Regions from separate parts of the Homo sapiens genome. Here region 1 is linked to region 2. Evidence: fine-mapped QTL for protein levels in blood plasma. A gene starts in region 2. The other region holds a variant in brackets. All regions are shown on one strand. Distances are from middle to middle.

Region 1 (8,308 bases), 14 kb before region 2:
GTTTTACGGTCTGAAGTTTTAGGGCCTCCACTGTAAGTAGCAGCCGCAAAACTATAAGAGGGGGAGAAATTACCCATAATTCCACCACGCTAACACATTAATTGCCTTCATTTCCTCTGTTCACTTTTAGTTCTTAATTTTATGCCATCATTTCATGAGGCTATAAATACAGCATAGTTAAAATGCAGCATTCTTTCACTCAACATTATATTGTGAACGCTTTTGTCTGAGGACTATTCTGGTTGCAAGGAAGATTTACTCAGTCAAGTTAAATTGTCTCAGAAAATAGTTGTGTGTACGTGCCTAATCTTAGAGAAACCAAGGACAGGCGCCTAAGCTGGCTAAGCTCCCCAGGAATTGGTGCTAGGGCAGGGAGAGCCAACAGCTACTGAAGCTGCTGTCGGGGGCCTTGGGTGGGCGGGGGGATCTCTGCTTACCCTGCGTTTCTGTTCCGCACACATCACTTCAGTAGTGCATGGCCGGTAGTGGCCACTACAAGCCACATGACCTTGCAGTACCAGAGCTTTCAATGATCCTCTTTCCAGACTGCTTAAAGTCAAACTCTTATTTGATTGTCTCAGTTTATCATTTCCATCCAGCGAGGCCATAGAAGTCAGAGGTTTCTGTTCAGCCTGTGGATTGGCTGTTGCTAGCTCAGGTGGACACATATTGGTCCAATCAGGGGTGGCTGGGGAGGTAGAGCCACATGCTTTAGATTCTAGCTCTGCAGGGCAGTGAGGCCGTGCGCTGGGACCCCCCTACCTCCCCCGGCAGTGAGTGTGGCTTCGTAGTTCTTACAACTACAAATGTTCATGAACACATGACATCACATCAAGTGGCTGTTTCATGATTTATGACCCTTCCTCTGCTGTTAGCTTTAGTTTATCGCCCCTTTCAGCTTGGGGACGGCTACAATAAAACTATGAACATTTTTGGGCATACTTCTTCCTTTTCATCTTCCAGATTATATAAAATAATCTTTAAATTCCATAGATTACATTCTCTGAGCACCTCCAGAACAGAAAACATAACCTTGCAATTTTTTCTTGTTGTCTAAAAAGGGTCTGTATTTGCTAGAGATTTCTACTGAAGTCGCTATGGGCAAAATAATAGGATGTGATACGTGGGATCTGCTTCAAAGCACTTTAGGAAAAAAGTTAGGGGGTGCTGAAAGCTGAAGCAAGATTGATGAAATCTCTAGCAAATACACTTTTTAAACAACAACAAAAAATTGCAAGGTTATGTTTTCTGTCCTGGAGGTGCTCAGAGAATGTAATCTCTCTGGAATTTAAGATGATTTTATATTTTATATATACTGCTGGAGCTGATGATGGGTGCGTGAGATTTATGATACACTTTGCCTCTGTTTTGTGGTTTATGTCCTACTTCCTTTCTCTTTCTCTCCCCTCTGGATTTTTTTGTTGTTAGTCCCCATGTTTCCTCTAGACATTTGGTACTCACATACTGCCCTGTGATTCCCCCAAATTTTTCTCAGGTTCGGTTACCCCTGACACCTGCCTCATAAATTCCTTTTCCTTCCTTACCAAAAACTCCAGTCCATTTGTCTATCTACCTATTCAGTAATTCATTCACATAAAAAAAAATGAACCTATGTGTTGGTCAAGACATGAAAAATGTTGCAAAATATAGTGACATTCATTGTTTTAGATGTTACTAGACAGCTATGAAGAGGAACGAAATCACAACTTATTTTGTAGCCTGAGATAAAAGCCAGCTCCCCAGAGCAACACTCAGGAATAACTGTCTTTCAGCAGAGGAGCCAAATGCCCTCTGGCGGGGGGCGGTGGGGCCAGTGTGTCAGAGTGTAGGGTGTGGCCGCAGGCAGAGCCCAGGAGAGGCCCTCCTCCCTCCATGCCCACCTCCTCCTCACTGCCTTTTTGCTAACGGCTTTCAGCCTTTTGGGATTTAGAATTGGAAGCTATATTCTGAGGTCGTATTTATTTAGTTAAATGAAAATTGTATATATTAAAATCCTTGGGATTTTTGTAATCATTAAAGCATCAAAGAGACTCGAGTGCTCCAGAAAATGAACATTTCATATTCATGCTAAGAAAGCAAAAATCTAATGAAATGGCTGAATTTTCTATTCATTTCCCAAAACATTAGTAAATTGTCAGTTATGTGAGCTAAGTTAAATTACAGGGCGATCATTCTGAGGTCTTTCTGGTTTTACAAGTCACAATGTTAAAAAACAAACTCAAGGAGGTTTTTTTTGTTTTTGAAATGGAGTCTCGCTCTGTCATCCATGCTGGAGTGCAGTGGCGCAATCTCGGCTCACTGCAACCTCCGCCTCCCGGGTTCAAGCGATTCTCCTGCCTCGGCCTTCTGAGTAGCTGGGACTAAAGGCGCCCGCCACCACACCTGGCTAAGTTTTGTATTTTTAGTTGAGACAGGGTTTCACCATGTTGGGCAGGCTGGTCTTGAACTCCTGACCTCAGGTGATCCACCCGCCTTGGCCTCCCAAAGTGCTGGTATTACAGGCATGAGCCACCGCGCCCGGCCACAAAGACGTTCTTGAGACCTGTTGGTCCTGGGAAATTGGAGTGCTCATAGGTGTAGCTGCACAACCCTACTGCCCACCTGTGTCTGGCAGGGGTTGGGACTTTCCTGGAGCTCCCTGGCACCCTCTGTGTGCCTCTGCCTTTGCATTCTTCACCTTGGATTATAACGGCATCTTTATTTGTTTCTCCCTCACTAGACTGTGAGCTTCTGTGGGAGGACAGGGATTCTGTATTTTTCAATGCCTGGAATGCGATTGGGCTTCCGTAAATATCAGTTGAATGAAAGACAACATATATATATGTATTTTTTTCCTTAAAAGAAACTCCCTATGTTCTTCCTCATAGATTCTCCTCTTCCTTACATAAACCCCTAGATGGGTTCATTCTTCAGCCTGGCTCTGAAGACCCGAGGAGAAAGTAAACACTTCAAAGAAACTGCCCCACAGGGACTCCGAACGCCCAAGTAATTCACCCTGAAAGCAGCATCTACTCCAGAACGGGGGCATCTGGATTCAGGTCACCCAGAATACGCCTTTGCCATCAGCTTCCCCCACTCCAGAAACAGGATTGTTACCTTTAAATGAGGACAATTCAGTGCTTGGTTTTTTTCAACATAACTGCTTAAGGATTTTTTTTTCTGTTTTTCTTTTTAGAGGCAGGGTCTTGCTCTGTTGCCCAGGCTGGAGTGCAGTGGTGCCATCATAGCTCACTGTACCCTCGAATTCTTGGGCTCAAGTCATCCTCCTGCCACCACCTCCTGAGTAGCTAGCACGGGTGTGCACCACCATACCCAGCTAATTTTAAAAACATTTTTGTAGAGATGAGGTCTTGCTATGTTGCCCAGACTGGTCTTGAACTCCCGGCCTCAGGTGATCCTCCTGCCTCAGCCTCCCAAAGTGCTGGGATTACAGGCATGAGGCACCACAACCAGCCTGTTTAAGGATTTCTAAGCATAAGCTTATAATGAAAAACCCACAATAATTAATCCAACTTGGAATCTACTGCGAGCACAGCAGGTCAGCAACAAGTTTATTTTGCAGCTAGCAAGGTAACAGGGTAGGGCATGGTTACATGTTCAGGTCAACTTCCTTTGTCGTGGTTGATTGGTTTGTCTTTATGGGGGGGGGGTAGGGGAAAGCGAAGCAGAAGTAACATGGAGTGGGTGCAGCCTCCCTGTAGAACCTGGTTACGAGAGCTTGGGGCAGTTCACCTGGTCTGTGACCGTCATTTTCTTGACATCAATGTTATTAGAAGTCAGGATATTTTTTAGAGAGTCCACTGTTTCTGGAGGGAGATTAGGGTTTCTTGCCAAGATCCAAGCAAAATCCACGTGAAAAAGTTGGATGATGCAGGTACAGGAATACACGAGGGCATAGTTCTCATAGTCGGTGGCCAGGATCCAGTACGGTGCCGATGGCATAACTGAGAACCAGAGAGAGGCAGCATTATTGGAGGGAGAGGGCAAGAGAAATCTCAGGACAACACAAGAAGGCTGGCCCAGACAACCACCCACCAAGCCCCCCACCTCTGATTTTGTTTATCAATCCAGAAACAGAAAGACCCTGGAAAGAAGTTTGGACGAAAGCCTAGACTGAGTGTTTCTGACTTACCCTTTCTAGCACTGTTGGTGCCCTGCCTGCCTGCCTGCCTCACTCACCCAGAGAGAGAGACAGAGAGAGAGAGAGAGACAGCGTTATAGTCATCACCCATCTGCACATTTCAGCTGCTCTGTGTATTCCCAGGTGGACTGAGAACTCTTAAGCCCAGAGTGATTTTGCAAAAATCTGTCTCCCACCTCTGCCAGCAGCGGCATCATGGCCCACCTGCACTCACCCAGGCTGGCACATTCTGCCTTCCTCTCGTGGTCCAGTTCCGAAGAATAAATTTACCCAGATACAATACAGAAAACTTCACATGTCTCTCCTTATTTGAAAACTTTGACAGTCTCCTATTGTTTATGGAAGAAACTTCAAGCCTTTTAATGTGGCATTCAAGGCCCTTCCTAACCTCATGCCCCTCTTCATGTACACTCCCAGGCTCTAGGCCTCTTTATTCAGGCCTTCTTCTTCTTCGTTTTTTTTTTTTTTTTTTTTTTTTTTTTTTGAGATGGAGTTTCACTCTTGTCGCCCAGGCTGGAGTGCAATGGCGCGATCTCAGCTCACTGCAACCTCCACCTCCTGGGTTCAAGCGATTCTCCTGCCTCAGCATCCTGAGTAGCTGGGATTACAGGCACACGCCACCATGCCCAGCTAATTTTTTGTATCTTTAGTAGAGACAGGGTTTCACCATGTCGGCCAGGCTGGTCTTGAACTCCTGACTTCGTGATATGCCTGTATTCAGGCCTTCTTCTATGTTCCAGTTCCCTTCACTTGGAAATCCTTTTCCATAATCTCCCATAATCCTACAAGGCCTAACGCAAACATCTAATCCTTGTTATGCATGTAATAGTTAGCTTTCACTCCAATCCCCGTCCCTGATCCCTATGGGAAAAATACTCAGTTGAGAGTTTGGAGACCTAGGTTTAGGTCCCAACTCTACTTCTAATGAGTTCAGTGATGGCCTGCGTCACTCAGCCCACCTGCACTTTAGCTCCCTTCTTGATAAAAATAACAAGAGAAACTGTGTATAAAGCCCTTTACAGTTTACAGAGCGTGTGTATCTGGTTTATTTTCACGACACTGGGCAGTTATTTCTGGCTTGTACATGTGAAGTTAGTTGTCCATATTCATAGTGTGAGAAGAACTGTTTTCTCCTCCCAGCATTCCTTTCTTGGTCTATAAAATTAGAACTTCCTCTCCTCCCCGCTCTAGGCACTTGACTGGTGTGGGGTGGAGGAGTGGCAGAGATGAGAAGTAGGAAGTGCAGGGAGTAACTTTTGTAGCTGATGACTTCAGTGTCTACCCTGCAGGTGGGAAAGGGGCTTTCAAGCACTCTTCGTGTTAGAAAGCCTCACAGTTCTGGGTTGAACTCTCTAGTGTATCTTCGTCGGAAATAAAACTAATATTTGGTGCTTTCTCTATTGCCTGTGTCCCTTCCTCAGTTAGCTCAGAACCCAGAGGCAAATGCCTGTCATTAGGTATCTCACAGGATCCCCAACAATGTGACTGGAAAGTGGCAGAAGCAGGATTCAAACTTGCCGTCACTCTTGTCATCTCTTGCTTCCTAGTTTCTGCGCCGTGCAGGTTGTTCTGCTAATATCTGCTAATGTTTCGGGCCCCAGTTTCCTTTGGGAAACAAGACTGGGTTGTGTCTTCTGCAGCCCACACCCGGTGTGCACCTACTTGTGTTTCACCTGTTGAAACGCTAGCTAGTTATAGTAAATTGCGGGGTCACGTGTCAGTATCCACACTGGGATGTGAGCTCCATAAGTACCAAGGCCAGCTCTGTCCGGCTCATCATGGCAACCCTAGTGCGTGACATGTAGTAAGTGTTTGACAGATAATTATGTGCTGAGTGATTATAGATGACACTCAGGTGTCTCAGGAATTCTCCAAGCCGGGGCGCTAGCCTTCAGTTTGCATATTTCCTGTCCCTGAATCCTCCTGGGAAAAGTGGATACTTACACCAGGAAAACTTAACTTCCAGCTTGGCAGGCTCTGTGAGGTTAACTGGGGTGGCTTCACCTTCGATTTGATTCACAGTTCCATCAGCTCTGCAGTGAGTTAAAAAAAGAAAAAATACAAAAAACGAAAAGAGAAAAGAAAAACAACTCATTGAAAGCCAATAAGCAACGAAAGGCAAGATTTGTGCCACTAAGGACCGTGGCAGCCAACACCGTGATTTCTGGTAAGAGAGGCTCTCAAAGGCAGGCTAGACCCTAGCTCCATGGCCTGGCCTTTCCCTTGTGACTGTCTCTGAGGCCAAGCAGGGGAAGAGAGCAGCGGGGTGATAAGAAGCCGCAATTGACAAGCTCCAGGATGGGACAGTATGTTAGGCCCTTGCACTTCAACACTATCTCTGACTATCTTCTATGGCCTGAAAGACCAATTCCTGCTCCCAGTCTCCAAAGAAAGGGAGAAAAGAGAATGGAAAAACAAACAAAACAACCCAACACACAAAGAAGATTCACTTTTTTTTTTTTTTGGAGATGGAGTCTTGCTCTGTCCCCCAGGCTGGAGTGCAGTGGTGCGATCTCGGCTTACTGCAACCTCTGCCTCCCCGGTTCAAGCAATTCTCCTCCCTCAGCCTCCCCAGGAGCTGAGATTACAGGCATGCACCACCACGCCTGGCTAATTTTTTGTATCTTTAGTAGAGACGGGGTTTCACCATGTTAGCCAGGCTGGTCTCAAACTCCTGACCTCAGGCAA[T/C]CTACCTGCCTCAGCCTCCCAAAGTGCTGGGATTACAGGCGTGAGCCGCCGTGCCTGGCAGATTCACTTCTTTTTAAAACGAGAAGGGCCAAAGGTACAGATGAGGATGGACTTGATCACTGAAAATAATTCAAAACAAGGAGACATAAAAGCGTTCCCCTTCTTTGGGCCTCAGTGATATCATGTGACATCGCCTGTCCCATCAAGGGGCCTGAGTCCAGAGACTCCCTCTAGTTCAGCAAGCCTCTGAGTGAGTGTGGGGGATTTCAATGTAGGCCAAGTAAAAGGAGGCAGTGAAGAAACATTTACTTTATCTCAGTGATTCTCAGGTATGCCCAGATTTCAGAGACATTAAATGTGAAGAAATGCATATCTCACAATTGATGTCACCTGACAATTAGCAGTGTCATTCCTTTCTTAGTGGCATATAACGCAGTGGTGTGTCTTAAAAGCTGGGGGCTTAGATTGGATGCAATACTTTCACCTCTTTGAATGAGCCTGCTTTCTAGATGACTCCCAATGGCCCCATGAACTTGGGAGAAGGGGAAAGGTGTGGAGATGGAGGCACCAAAGGGAGGGTGCTAAGGCATCAGGGTGCTCTTCCTAGGAAGCCAACAGAGGAGAGGATGTCTGTTTATCAATCCTCAAGGCAGAGCAGGGAGGCCAACTGAAATTAGAGCAGTCGTATGTGTTAGAAAGTCAGTAGGTTGGCCGGGCGTGGTGGCTCACGCCTGTAATCCCAGCACTTTGGGAGGCCAAGGGGGGGCGGATCACAAGGTCAGGAGATCAAGACCAGCCTGGCCAACACAGTGAAACCCCGTCTCTACTAAAATACAATTAAAAAAAAAAAAGAAAGTCAGTAGGTTAATGCTATGGTTAGTGGTGACGGATGTCCTAGAAACAGGACAATGAGCAACAGGCCAGGGATTCTGGGAACTGTGCTCTGATGTTCCCAAGTACTTTCTCTGTTTATCACCATGTAAAGCTGGAGACCGTGCCCTCCTCTCTCATCTGGATCTCAGACAGCTGGGGAAGATGGTCTGTTTCTATCTGCATACGTTAACTTAGCAACAAACCAGTCTCCTCCCAGCAGATTCTGCCCTTTTCACCGTCAATTGCATTTTGCTCTAGAACGGTTTTCAGGACACCAGTCTCTGACCATGAAGTCACAACATGTTCATGGAAAAACTGCATTTGTATTTTCAAGAGTGGAAGGTGGGTAGGAAGGAGCTCTTCCTGGGGCTCTTTTTAAGTTTATAGTTGCTTTCCAAAGCGTAGCTTTTTGGATTAATTATTGTGTTAGAAGCCCTCAGTAATAGAAATGTACACTTCTAAAGGATATCCTGTTTACATAACCTAGAGTGTGAATGTTGTGTATGTGATTCTTGCTTAATAAGAAAAGGAGCTTTCTGATAGATTAAGCTGCCCAGAGATGGGATGAACTGTCCTGGAAGGCGATGAGCTCCCAGTTCCTGGAAG
Region 2 (8,324 bases):
CTCTGCCAGGGGGCTCAGCTAGAGCCACGGATGCTCCCATGACCTGCTGGCAGCAGCTGTGGGACAATCGGAGGGGCATGCTCCACGTGTCCTCAGAGGGTGCCCAGTGTGACTGACCCTGACGGCCCAGGGCGACAGCTCAGGAACGCACCCTTTATTGCTTCTGTGCTGTCTCCGACTCACCTTCCCACCTGCTCTCGTGCGTCCCGGGATCATCCCAAACCTCTCTGCCTGCAGTCTTTATCTCAGCAGATGTCTGCTTTGGGGAAACCCCAAATAAGATAAATACTTGTCCCAAGGTGTGCAGTGGAAATTAAAGCAGCATAATTACATTGAACCTTGTAGAACGCTTATTCACAGCGGAGGCAGCAAAACAAACGGGAGGTTCGCCTTTTACCTTATTCACGTCAAAATTCTCCTGCACCGGAGGATTGGGGCACTTCCCAAGATGAAATGCTTGTCCCTCTGCCGCACCGAAGAGGCCAGCCAGTGCGGAAAGCAGCAGCAGCAGCATCACCATCTTGGGGCTGGGTGGCTGGAGAAGGGACCTGGAGCTGCGGGAACGCAAAGCAGCTGGGGTTGTCATTCTGAGCCTTCTAAGGCCACACAATCATGAAGTAAGAGTGCTGTGCCCATGGTCCCCTCTGTGGGCGGTCCCTCCTCTTCTCTCCCCAGCCCATGTGAACCCTCATCCTGCAGGGGAACACCTGCCTGTCCTTGTTGCTGTGAGGCCTTCCTCAGAGCCTCTGCACCTCCACGAGGGCGCTCTCTGCCTGGTATTCTGGTTTGTTGGATTGATTTTCACCCCTGTCCCACCTAATTATGCATCTCCCAGGATGGGCACTGTGTCTAGTTCTCCTCAGAATCACCCACGGACCTCAAAGTGTCGGCTCAGTAGATACTTGTCAAATGAACAGAAACAGCGTGGAGAGGGCTATGTAAAGTGGGGGATTAAAGCCTCCAAGTGAACCACGAAAGACACGAAACCAAACCAAATGTTGCCCAACACTTAGTGTCCTCTGAGATTCTTCAGGGAGATGCCTCTCTGACACCATCCCTCCCCCTGCCCTCGTCTTGCTGGCTGTTCTACCAGCCCAAGAGTGCGCTTGGAAACCTTAACAGGGAGCGGCCTGCTGGGGGCTCCAGGGTCACCCCAGCCAGGTTCAAATTGTGACTCTGCCCCATACTAAGTATAACTGTGTCCAATTTATGCCTTAGCTTCTTTGTCTAGTAAATGGGAATAATTATCATTCCTAGCTCATGAATTTTTGTGAGAATTAAATGAGATAATATACAGAGAGTACTTAGAGGAGTGTCTGATACAGAGTAAATGCTCAATAAATGCTAGTTATTGTTATTATCAAAAGCAGAAAGATGATGGTATTTCCCAGGTTTCTTCTTTCTTTTCTTTTCTTCTTTCTTTCTTCTTTTTTTTTTTTTGACATTCTGTTGAGGGTTTTTGTTTTGTTTTGTTTTGTTTTGAGATGGAGTCTCACTCTGTCACCCAGGCTGGAGTGCAGTGGCACAATCTCGGCTCACTGCAACCTCTGTCTCCCGGGTTCAAGTGATTCTCCTGCCTCAGACTCCTGAGTAGCTGGGATTACAGGTGTCCACCACAACTCCCGGCTAATTTTGGTATTTTTAGTAGAGACAGGGTTTCACCATGTTGGCCATGCTGGTCTCAAACTCCTGACCTCAGGGGATCCACCCGCCTTGGCCTCCCAAAGTGCTGGGATTACAGGCCTGAGCCACCGCACCCGGCCTGTTGAGGGTATTTTTCATAGATGAAGTTCATTAAATCAGAGAAGGACTGTCAGCTGATGTGTAACTGTGCAACAAGCATTTCAACCCCAAGAGTCCTTTGGCAGCAGAAGCTGGCTTTGAAGCGGGGCAGCAAGGCAGGGAGACAGAGGCTGCAGGACTGTGTGCAGGTTCTGGGCATTGGAAGCTCCCCTGTTTCCTTCACTGACTCGCTGTCAATTTGCTCCTTTCCTTGTGACTCCTTGCCTGTAGCTTGCACACGAGCTATTTCCAGCTCTCTGCATTTCTCCCTGTAATGATGATGACTGATGCAATGCAAGCAAAATGTTCTCAGATCTGAGCATTTCGAAGGATGTGTCATTACAGGAATAATTATAACTGCTTTATTGTGAGTCTCTAAACCTCTAAATACCCTTTAATAATCAATAGCTTTTTTTCCCCTGGAGGTTTTGTTGCCTGGTTTTCCAAAGAACAGTTATGTAAGGAGTGGCAGCTTGCCAGCTGGGGTTGCTGCAGGGGGAGATGGTTGCTGAGGCCCCTTTGAGCAAGTCTGCCACAGGGCCACTTTCCCTGGTCTCTGAGGTTCCGTTTCTCATCGGCTCCACCACTGTATAAACAAAACCTGTCTTTTAACCTTTTGGGGGATGATGAATTTATAGAAATGCAGCCTAAACCCACACAAATTTGCATCCATTTTAAAGAGATCTTGAATTCTACTTAGTAGGCCCAAGCTGAAAGCCTGGCCCAGAGGATCAAACCTCAAAGACTGGCCACACACTATGCACATTCCACAAGGTCCCCACACTGGATAGGACCTTAGAGGTCATCTTTCTAGCTCTACTTCCAAGGTGTACAGATGGGGAAGCTGGGGCCTGGAAGGGGCAGAGAGCTGGGACTCGAGCTCCATCTCCCCCTCTCCTGTCTGCAGCACCCCGAATCTGCTTCTTCTGTGCACCGCCATAGGGCCTTTCAATAACCCCCCACCTCTGTGACCTGATGAGTCTCACCACCACATGACACTGCAACAAAAGTCAGTTCTACATCTTACTCTGACAAAATGCTCTCTTGTGAGCTGAAACAGATTCTTTACCTCAGTAGGAGGATTTCAGAACAACCCCTTTGACTGACCCTCTTCCAAAGATGCCTCTTGGTTACATTAGTTTTATTCCTGTGGTTAAAACTCCTTGTGATGCCAGGTGCGGTGGCTCAAGCCTGTAATCCCATGGGAGGCCGAGGCAGGTGGAGCACCTGAGGTTGGGAGTTCAAGACCAGCCTGACCAACATGGAGAAACCCTATCTCTACTAAAAATAAAAAAATTAGCTGGGCATGGTGGTGCATGCCTGTAATCCCATGCTGCCTGTAATTACATGCATGCCTGTAATCGGGAGGCTGAGGCAGGAGAATTGCTTGAACCCGGGAGGTGGAGGTTGTGGTGAGCTGAGATTGCATCATTGCACTCCAGCCTGGGCAACAAGAGCAAAACTCCGTCTCAAAACAAGCAAACAAACAACAACAACAAAAAAACTCCTTGTGAGAGAAAGGGCGGACAGCATCCATTATAGTTTTCAATGTCCTTTCATTCTAATTTACTCATTACTTATTGAGCATGTTATTAATGTGTACTTAAGACTTTGGGTAACATATGGATTATATACGACATATATTTTTGCATCTTCTTCTGATATCAATAGGAAGATTGTTCTTATGAGGAGTTTAAATACTTTACAAAATAAGTATAATTTAAATATTATTTTTGGCCGGGCATGATGGCTAATGCCTGTAATCCCAACACTTTGGGAGGCCGAGGTGGGCAGATCACTTGAGGTTAGGAGTTTGAGACCAGCCTGGCCAACATGGCGAAACCCCGTCTCTACTAAAAATACAAAAAATTAGCCAGGTGTGGTGGCAAGTACCTGTAATCACAGCTACTCGGGAGGCTGATGCAGGATAATTGCTTGAACATGGGAGGCAGAGGTTGCAGTAAGCCAAGATCACACCATTGCACTCTAGCTTGGGCAACAGAGCAAAAACTCCATCTCAAAAAAACAAAACAAAAACAAACAAACAAAAAATACAAAAATTAGCTGGGCATGGTGGTGCAGTCCTGTAATCCCAGCTACTTGGGAGGCTGAGGCACAAGAATGGCTTGAACCTGGGAGGCGGAGGCTGTAGTGAGCCGAGATCGCGCCACTGCACTCCAGCCTGGGTGACAGAGTGAGACTCCGTCTCAAAAAAAAAAAAAAAGAAATATGATTTTTAACAGAATATGAGGTAATTAAAAAGCAATCCAACTAAGGTGACAGTGCATCCACCTTGGGCCTGGCACTAGCTGGAAATCACTGCTCCACTTGCATTAAGCTTACCCGTGGAGAAGCCCTGGTCCCAGGATTTTAAGGGTGCTATGCGCTCAGTCTCCACAGCACCTCCTCTGGAGGCGACCTCTGCTGACACTCTCTTCATACCAACGAGGTGAATTTGCCCGGGTTACTTCCTGGTAAACTACGAAGCCACAGTGTAAGCCTAGGCCTGGGGACAGGCTAGAATGTAAGCCTAGGTCTCCCACAAGCCCGCGCTCTTAGTGCCTGGGGACACAGCCCCTGACCTCAAAGATCTGCAGAACGTGAAGGACTAGATTTTGAAATTTCACCTCATAAAATAAAATAGGTTCCAATAAGTCATTAGGTCTCAAAGACTCATTTAGCCATTAAATATAACAAGACACGTATCTCCCAAACACAATATTTTATGCCATATTGTCAAATGCATTTTCTAGTCACACCATTAATTCCAGTTTCCAGATTATTTTACTGCGATGCACCGTTGGACAGCTTGCTGAGAATTCACCTAGGACGGTGTTTGTGCATGGAAACACCTCGTTGTCCAGTTTGGAGGGGTAAGCAAAAGACGCTGGGATGAGTTCACACTGGGTTTGGTTTTATCTTAGGCATGTTGCTAGTGTATCTGAACCTCAGCTTTATCACTGGAAAAATGGCTCTGATGATACCTACCTTGTACATTTGTTTGAGGAAAAATGAGAACAAGTCTAAAGCTACCGGCACAAGCTCTCAATCAGTGGTAGTTATATGTAGCTGAAATGGGGCAATGGAGAGTCTAGACTGTTTCTATTTTAGACATTATTATCATAAATGAAAAGCTTAAAACTACAGTACATACCTTTTCTTTCAAGATGAAGGCAGTTTCCAGATGCAGAATCAGCCGATTTGAGATGCCTGTCTTGGTGACTGGCCTCTCCCAAGCTATTTTATAAGCTTCTTCAGGTCTCTGATGTTTACTTTTCATGCATGCCACGCCCGCCGCCCCCATCCAGTCAGGAGGGTTGGCCTAAAAGCTTAGTCTGTATCGAAACACAAAGATGGGATGTTGTGTCCATCCTCCTCCCCCGATTTCCTTCACAGCTGCTCCCTGAAGAAGAAATGAGATATTGTTTTCGCGCGCGCGTGTGTGTGTGTGTGTGTGTGTGTGGGTATGTGTGCGAGAGAGAGAGAGAGTATGTGTGAGAGAAAGATAAAGTATATTTTCATCCAAAACATTTTTTTTTTTGCTATGTGGATTTTCTAATTTAATTTTTTTGGTCAGAATGCACTTTTAAGTTCCAGCAGGACGTGTTGCAACATGTTTTCAAACATCTGGTATTTATTTTTCATTTTTGTGTAAATGAAAAATCAACAAGCTCATTTCCTGAAGTGGAACATGGAGTTCCTGACTCCACTAATGGGAGTCAGGTAATGGCGCGAGGGTTATGAGTCAAAGCTGGCTTTCTCCAGGATCCTGGGCAGCCCCCTAACTTCTCTGAGCCACAGTCTCCTCGTTGTAAGTAGGGGCTGTCATTCTTTCTCCACCAGAGCCAGACGTGTAGGGGAGATACCAGTTCTCTAACAACTGGGGCTAAAAGTTGAGAATGCAGAAGACATCTTCTGTCGCTCTGTTCTCTGTCCCTTTTATGACCCTTGCAGCGAGAAGTTCAAGACAGTCTGTCACTGCTTGGGGGTGGGGGCCGGGGTGGTGGGGAGTGTGGACTTAAACCCAGGGGTGCTTTTGGTCCAGCCTTATCTCTCCTGGTGGAATGAACAACTTTGACTCTTGTGAGTGAGATTCTATGTCTTTGTGATAGGCAGGAGGTATGTTTAGAGACATTTAGATAAGGCAGTGCCTTCGTAGTAGACTTAGACTCCTAAATGAAATTCATTCTAAAATATGTAAGCAACAGAGATACATTTACAGCACTGAGTCTATAAACATGAAAACAACAACACAGATCCGTAACATCCCAAACGTTGTGAGCGCTTTCTTTAAGATGTTCTTTGCCTTTTCAGAAACATAAGAAATTCCTACTACCACCCAGGGCCTGCCTCTCGCTGACCTCCTGTGCTGCCCTCCCCTAAGAGCTCTGTGTAGCTCCCTTCCCCACTCCAGGTCCCTGATCAGATGACACTTTTCCCTAAAAAGCTTCCTGACCTTTCAAAAATAGCACTCTTGTCACTGTCCCTTTCCCTGCTTCATTATATCTTTACCTGAAATTCTCTCCTTTATTTATACATTATCCTGCTTAGTATGTTTTCCCCAGGAGGATAGGAGCTTGAGGCGTGCCAGGAGTTTGTCTCTTTGACTCTGTGTTGTGCCCCAGTGGCTAAGCACATACTAAGTGCTCAGTAAATACTTATAAATTAAATGGATGCTATCCAAAGAACTTAATGAGTTTCTAAGATATACAAAAGGCCCCAGAGGTAATATTCACGCGATTTTGATTTCAATTGTATTTCTGGAGAAGCACTAGCCTGTATGTTTCTGTCTTCTTCACCTGTATCACATTTGCCACCAAGAATTGCCTGTCATTGAAGAAATACACAGTTAGCCTCTTTTCAGCCTATTACAAAAAATTCTCTCTCCTCTAAGCAGTTGCACAGTTTTCCACAAAGCACTGTTGCCTAAGTTTCCAAATATGTATGTTGGAGTTGGAGATATCTATGTATTTTAGCCCTCAGCACTGAAGTCGGCAACCATGGAGCTGAAGGTCCAGGTCTAGGAGTCACAGCGGGAGAAAAGCCACACGATCTTCCTAGGTCTCAGTTCATTTTTTCTGTAAATATTGGTAAGTGATATATTCCTTAGGGAAATCCTCTCTTCACATGTTTCTGGAATGTATAGCCAGTAACAAATTCTTAAGCAGCATAAAACAAATCAGACCTATCTTCTAAGCAAGTGTTTATTTTTAAGTCCCAAAATAAATACACATTTGTTCAAAACAATTAAAATAGCACCAAAATGCAGGACTCAGGAAATGTAAGCACCTCATAATCCCACACCTCAGAGATAAGCATTATTTTGTTTGTAATTATTCCTCTAGATCTTTCTATACAGATCCCTATGTAATAATAACAATATTCAATGTTCTGAAACTTTTTTTTTTTTTTGAGACCGACCTTCACTCACTCTGTCACCCAGGCTGGAGTGCAGTGGTGCAATCTTGGTTCACTGCAACCTCAGCCTCCCTGGTTCAAGTGATTCTCCTGCCTCTGCCTCCCGAGTAGCTGGGATTACAGGCGCCCGCCACCACACCCAAGTGATTTTTGTATTTTTAGTAGAGACGGAGTTTCACCATGTTGGCCAGACTGGTCTCAAACTCCTGACCTCAGGTGATCCACCCGCCTCGGCCTCCCAAAGTGTTGGGATTACAGGCATGAGCCACCGCCACTGCGCCCAGCCAAGAAACTTGTTTTTTAATGTAACAATGTATCTATCTTTCTATATCAGTACACATAGATCTACCTCATTCTTTCACCTGCTGCAAAATCTTGCTTTTACCTGAGAGCACATTTCTTTTTTTCCTTTCTTTTTTTTTTTTTGAGACAGAATCTCGCTCTCGCCCAGGCTGGAGTGGTGCAGTGGCCGGATCTCGGCTCACTGCAAACTCTGCCTCCCAGGTTCATGCCATTCTCCTGCCTCAGCCTCCTGAGTAGCTGGGACTACGGGGGCCTGCCACCATGCCCGGCTAATTTTTTTTTTTTTTTAGTAGAGACGGGGTTTCACCGTGTTATCCAGGATGGTCTCGATCTCCTGACCTCGTGATCTGCCCGCCTCGGCCTCCCAAAGTGCTGGATTACAGGCGACAGCGCATTTCTTGAAGAGACAGTCTGTGGTCTGTGGTTTTTCCGGAAAGCAGTTCTTTGTTGGGTGATGATCTTTCATCATGGAGGTGATTGCCTCAGTGGTTTCACTCTCAGACCCGCAGGGAAGATGCAGTTATTTGAATGGACTCTTTGTGGCAAGAAATAGAGAACTATCTCATCTCCTAAAAAAACATGTTTCTGGATGAAGAATTCTTTATTTCTTAATAAGTGGTTCTTTCAACTACCAGAGTCATCCTGTATGCCTTTCTAAAGTGATTTTTCTTTTGTCAGTTAGAATAAAGGGGACGCACAAATGTACTTTTCGTGTGAAAATGCAGACTGAGAGGTTTCAGTAGTGCACCTTCACTCTTTAAGACTCGGCTCAAATGTCCCCCTCCCTGGGTCATCTTCTGGATTCCTAGCCCACCCCACGC

Evidence for each region. PIP is the chance, under the fine-mapping model, that this variant and not a neighbour inherited with it causes the effect. Protein levels are from the aptamer-based SomaScan assay of Sun 2018.
Region 1: its variant is fine-mapped to the plasma level of the APOD protein (Sun 2018, PIP 0.95).

What each region holds. Positions count from the first base shown.
Region 1 is chr3:195,565,192-195,573,499 of GRCh38, forward strand. APOD (apolipoprotein D) reads right to left here. Exons shown (of 5, transcript NM_001647.4): 4 at 6,086-6,174; 5 at 3,514-3,944. The coding sequence ends at 3,709. Among named protein-coding and RNA genes, the nearest start is that of APOD, 15 kb to the right of the region's middle. The variant T/C (reference allele first, on the strand shown) is at 6,830.
Region 2 is chr3:195,578,942-195,587,265 of GRCh38, forward strand. It overlaps APOD (apolipoprotein D), which reads right to left and starts at 4,999. Exons shown (of 5, transcript NM_001647.4): 1 at 4,937-4,999; 2 at 398-554. The coding sequence starts at 520. RefSeq lists an enhancer at 4,450-4,619.